2 separate regions of the Homo sapiens genome follow, and region 1 is linked to region 2. The links come from fine-mapping of genetic effects on gene expression. A gene starts in region 2. The other region holds a variant in brackets. All regions are shown on one strand. Distances are from middle to middle.

What was found.
Region 1: its variant is fine-mapped to the expression of GPR108 in adrenal gland (GTEx, PIP above 0.99).

Annotation. Positions count from the first base shown.
Region 1 is chr19:6,330,819-6,333,725 of GRCh38, forward strand. It overlaps ACER1 (alkaline ceramidase 1), which reads right to left and starts at 2,794. Exons shown (of 6, transcript NM_133492.3): 1 at 2,641-2,794. The coding sequence starts at 2,733. The variant G/A (reference allele first, on the strand shown) is at 1,198.
Region 2 is chr19:6,735,927-6,738,833 of GRCh38, forward strand. GPR108 (G protein-coupled receptor 108) reads right to left here and starts at 1,654. Exons shown (of 18, transcript NM_001080452.2): 1 at 1,531-1,654; 2 at 666-785; 3 at 1-32. The coding sequence starts at 1,650. MIR6791 (microRNA 6791) reads right to left here and starts at 852; the gene lies at 786-852. RefSeq lists enhancers at 1-5, 529-678, 2,119-2,178, 2,311-2,907 and silencers at 469-623, 989-1,150, 1,299-1,468, 1,569-1,628.

The DNA of each region.
Region 1 (2,907 bases), 410 kb before region 2:
GAATCAGTGAGACCGTGAGGATCCTGGAGTCTCATAATCCCACTTCCCAGGTATGGGAAGCCCCGGGGTGAAAGGCAACAGGGTCAGAGCAACCTGAGCCTCGGACTCTCCTCCCAGAAAAGTCTCCTGGACTCACCAAGTTTAAATCCTGGCTCTAATAACCAGGGTGACCCTGGGCACAGCCTTCAAACTCCTTGAACACCTGTTTTATCACCTGGAAAATGGGATGAAGTCTGTATCATATAGATTGCATCTAACTCCCCATGTCACTGTGCAGATTAAAGGAGGTGTTTCACGTAAAATGTTTAGGGTCATGCCTGGTACACAGCAAGCACTTTTTTTTTTTTTTTGAGATGAGGTCTCGCTCTGTCACCAGGCTGGAGTGCAGTGACACAATCTTGGCTCACTGCAACCTCTGCCTCCCGGGTTCAAGTGATTCTCCTGCCTTAGCCTCCTGAGTAGCTGGGACTACAGGCGCCCGGCACCATGCCTGGCTAATTTTTTGTATTTTTAGCACAGACGGCATTTCACCACGTTGGCCAGGATGGTCTTGACCTCTTGACCTCATGATCCACCCCCCTCGGCCTCCCAAAGTGCTGGGATTACAGGCGTGAGCCATAGCACCCAGCCAGCAAGCACTCTTCTGCTCACTGAGCAAGGCCTATGTGCAGGGCATAGAACTAAGCACTACGAGGCCGGGCGCCGTGGCTCACGCCTGTAATCCCAGCACTTTGGGAGGCTGAGGTGGGCGGATCACCTGAGGTCGGGAGTTCAAGACCAGCCTGGCCAACATGGTGAAACCCTGTCTCTACTAAAAATACAAAAATTAGCCAGGCGTGGTGGTGGGAACCTGTTATCCCAACTACTCGGGAAGCTGAGGCAGCAGAATGGCTTGAACGCGGGAGGCAGAGGTTGCAGTGAGCCGAGATCGCGCCATTACATTCCAGCCTAGGTGACAAAGCGAGACTCCGTTTCAAAACAAACAAACAAACAAACAAAAGAACTAAGCACTATGCCTGGATCCCATCATTCCCAGGGCTCCAGGCAAACACCTCTGTGTTCCCAGCACCCAGTATGGGCATGGCATAGCTGCACTGATCTTTGGCTTTAAGCTTTGGCTAAATGCCGTGATCATTTGTGCATTCCTATTTTTTTTTTTTTTTTTGAGACGAAGTCTCGCTCTTGTCCCTCAGGCTG[G/A]AGTGCAATGGTGCGATCTCGGCTCATTGAAACCTCCGCCTCCTGGGTTCAAGCCATTCTCTTGCCTCAGCCTCCCAAGCAGCTGGGATTACAGGTGCCTGCCACCAAACCTGGCTAATTTTTGTATTTTTAGTAGAGATGGGGTTTCACCATGTTGGCCAGGCTGGTCTCGAACTCCTGACCTCAGGTGATCCACTCACCTTGGCCTCGCAAAGTGCTGTGATTACAGGCGTGAGCCTCCGCGCCCGGCCTTTTTTTTTTTTTTTTTTTTTTGAGACAGGGTCTCCCTCTGTCACCCAGGCTGGAGTGCAGTGGTATGACCTCAGCTCACTGCATCCTCCACTTCTTGGGTTCAAGAAATCCTCCCCCCTCAGCCTCCCAAGTAGCTGGAACTACAAGCACACACCACCACACCCAGCTAATTTTTAAAAACTTTTTGTAGAGACAGGGTCTTGCTATGTTGCCCAGGCTGGTCTGGAACTCCTGGGCTCAAGCGATCTTCCTGCCTCTGCGTTCCAAATTGCTGGGGTTACAGGCATGAGCCATGGTGCTAGGTACATCCATGATTTTTTAGCACTTCCCATGTGGTGTTTTAACAGGGAAAGAGAAGACCACCTCAGAATGTCCAGAACTGAGGAGTTTCTCAGGAGGTGGGACTTTTTTTCTTCTTTTTTTGAGACAGTCTCGCTTTTTCACCCAGGCTGGAGTGCAGTGGCACAATCTCAGCTCACTGCAACCTCCGCCTCCTGGGTTCAAGCGATTCTCATGCCGTAGCCTCCTGAGTAGCTTGGACTACAGATGCCTGACACCGTACCCAGCTAATTTTTTATTTTAGTAGAGATGGGCTTTCACCACGTTGCCCAGGGCGATCTCCAACTCCTGAGCTCAGGCAATCCACCCACCTTGGCCTTCCAAAGTGCTAGGATTACAGACGTGAGCCACCGCGCCCAGCCAAGAGGTGAAACTTTTTAAATACTGAAACCAGGATAGTCCCAGGCACACTGGGACAAGTTGGTCAGTGGGTACAGCTGCAAACAAGACAGACACAATCACCTCTTCCAGGAAGCCTTTCCTGATTGGCCCACCCCCTCTAGCTCAGGGGCACCCTCTGCCTCCCCCTACCACAGCTGCCTCTGTGCCCTCCAAGAAGGCACCATCGCTCCCGGTTGCAAATGCCTGCAGTCACATCAGAGTTAGCTTAGGGAAGGCAGAGACCGGTTCTTTTCCTGGCCACCAATGTGTCTCCAAAACCTACCACAGAGCTTGGCATCAAGTAAAGACAAGTAAATGAATGAAAGCTGGCACTCTTTGGCTAACAGATGAGAAAACTAGGGCTGAGACAGGTGAACCACTCCAGCAAGATTCCCCAGTAAGGCTGTATGGGGAGGAACCGGGATTCGAACCGGCATCTGGCGAGACTCCTTCACACACCCACGCACTCACCGTGTTGTAGAACTCGGCCACCAGCTCCGAGTACTGGAAGTTGCTCTCACACCAGTCCACCTCGGAGCTCTGATAGGCGAAGATGCTAGGCATCTTGTCTCAGTGGCCACCACCAGCCGGCTGCGCCCGGCAGAGAGAAGGCGAGCTTGGGAAGGCTGGGCCCTGATGAGGCGGGGAGAGGACAGCCCGGTGCCCCGCGGCAGGCAGACTGGGAGGAAAAACCTGCTGGGCCGCTCCCCAGTTGCACCAGGGCAGCCTGGCTGTGCA
Region 2 (2,907 bases):
CCAGACCGAACCCGGCTGAGACTGAACCCCACCTGGTGGGTGGAAAAAAAAAGGGGAGGGTGTGAGGGACAGTAGAGACCTCCCAGCTATCCCTTTCAGTAGCAATAGAAACCTAACCTCACATTTACTGAACACCTAACATGTGCTAGATCCCACACGCTCTTTTTCTTTTTTAGAGTTGGGGTGGTGGGTGGACCTCATTCTGTTTCTCAAGCTGGAATACAGTGGCAGGATCATAGCTCACTACAGCCTCGAACTCCCAGGTTCAAACGATCCTCTCACCTCGGCCTCCCGACTGGCTGGGACTACAGGCACACCTCACCACGCCCGGCTAATTTTAAAAACTTTTTGTAGAGACGGGGTTCTCACTATGTTGCCCAGGCTGGTCTTGAACTCCTGGCCTCAGGCAATCCTCCCACCTTGGCCTCCCAAAGTGCTAGGACTACAAAGCCTGAGCCACCGCGCCCCGCCTGTCCCCCAAGTCTTAAGAAAAGTGCCTAGCACATCCTGTGTAAGACATCATTACTCCCAGGTACAGATGACGAAACAGGCTCAGAGAGATGACGGGACTTGTACAAGATCACATGGGTAGCGGCAGAGCTGGGAACCCAGAACCGGGGGATTGCACCGTGCTCTCCTCCAGCAAACTCCTCAAGGTCCCTCACCAGCAGGGACTTCTCTTCTGCCTCCCGGAGGCCCAGCCGCAGGACGCTCAACTCCACCTCCAGAGAGCCATTGGTGTAGAAACCGAAGCTGTTCAGCTGGATGTCCGCTCGCTTCTCCCCCTGCCGGAGACCAAGGAGGCAGAGGCAGTTCAGACCTCTTTCCGCCTGCCCAGCCCCAGGGGTCTGGCACGAGGACCTCCAGAAGGGCCTCCTGGTACCCCTCTATTTAGGACAGGCCCAGAGGATGACAAGAGAAAGTTGAGAGGGACTTCCTCCCTGCAGGGGAAGGGTGGTCCTGCATTCTCCGACCTCTGTTCTGAGAACCCAGGAACAGAGATCCTGCGGCACCTGGAAGTCTCCCCACTGGGGTGAGCACCGCCCGGAGAACAGTTATTCACCTCGGCGTGCCTGACCTTCACCTTCCCGAAGAACTTTTACATTCCAGTTGAGCTCCCAGCAATATTTCAACAGAACCCCCCAAATCCCATTAAGTGCCCAGAGGACCCCACTCTATAGCCCCCCAGGACCCCGCTGTGCGGCTCCAGGGTCTCTAGCGCCCCAAAAGTGATTCCAAGAATTTAAAGGACTAAGACCCAGTTGGGGGGAAGGGGGGTGTAGTCCCCAAGAGATGGAGCCTCGCCCCCGAAGGGAGGGGGCCGACCCCAGCGAGGCGGACCCGGCAACTCCATCCGGAGGACCGAAGGGGATCCCGGGACGAGACCACTCCGGGCCCGGAAACGGGGGGCGCCGGACCACTCCACCGCCTCGGGGACGGGGGAGGGCGGACGAGACCACTCCAAGCCAGGGGGCTTCTCCGAGACAAAGTTGCGCCACCGACCCCAGACCCTCGCGCGGCGGGCCTCACCGTCAGCGCCAGCTGGTGGATGCGCCCGGAGCAGCCACCCAGCAGCAGCACCAGAAGTAGCCGCTGCCCCCACTCCGCGGGGCTCCCGCGGCCGAGCCCCCTCCTCTCGCTCACTGCCATCTCTGGAGCCACCTCCTCCCCGACTCCGCCTCTGGCGCCCAAGCCCGCCCACCGATGAGCCAATCGCCGCACGGCGGGGCCCGGCCTTTCGGAGTTTCCAGTCCGCCAACCAATCAGCAATTGCCTCTCCGCAAGCCCGCCTGCTTGCGTCACCGACGGACAGCACCGGTTCCGAATGGGAGAGCCGATAACGCTTAACCCCCAGCTCACTCTCACCAATCGCTATAAAGATTGTCCGGATGTGATTTAATGAGCAGTTTATCTAACCAATTGTCATGGATCTGATATCCGGCCCTTAAAGCGGAATTTCTCCACCCACTCTTAACTGTCCGGGACTACATTACCCAGAATGCAGCGGGAGCAGACAAGGGCCACAAAGCATTAAATAAACTACCTTTCCCAGTATCCCCAAGGACGGACTTCCTCTTCTTGAGCCAGGGATGTGGCTCCCAGCCAGAGCTGAGGCTTTTGGTAAACACACGCATCTGTTCAGGCCTGACCTGTTTTCCTAATCTTCCTGGTCCACAGAGAGGCCTAAAGCTGGCCTCAGGTTAAAGTTTGACCCTAGGATGACCTATGACCCCAGGCTGAGACCCCAGCCTTAGGCTAAGCCTTTTATTCCAGAGTGAGGCAATTGGAGCCCCACCCCCAGATTCCAGGCTAGACCGGACTCCGGGCTGAACTCTGACCCCAGGTGAACTCCCTCTCTGCAAGTTGAGTCCTAACTTCAGCCTGAAACTCTGACACCCCCTCGTCCCCCACACCACACACTGAGGCTTAATCTCTGGTTTAGGCCACCGATCTGGACTAGCCCTGACTCCAGATTGGACCTGACCCCTTACCGGGTTGCTAATCCTTCTGGTTAAGCCTCTGGCCTCTATCCCCTATCCCCACGGTGGTGCTGACCTGGACTGAACCCCAATTCCAGTTTGAGTCTCTGAGCAGAGGTGAACTCAGAACTTTGCTAGGCTGAGCCCCCATTTGAGACTAGCCACAGAACTCACTGGGTTCAATTGCCCAACTGCAATCAGACATTTTCTAGCTCAGAAGCCACCAGCAGGTGGGGCCAGGTCTCAGCAGAGACATCAGTCCCAGTGTGGGCTCCCAAGGCTCTCCTCCTGGGCTCAGCTGTATCTCTCTGTTCTGGGAGCCTGGGTGCTCTGTGTAAGGGGAACGTATACCCAAGGGCCCCCCTGCAAGACGCCCAGCCTTGTCTGAGGCTGCAGAGAAAGCGCCAAAGCCCGGAGAGAATGGGAG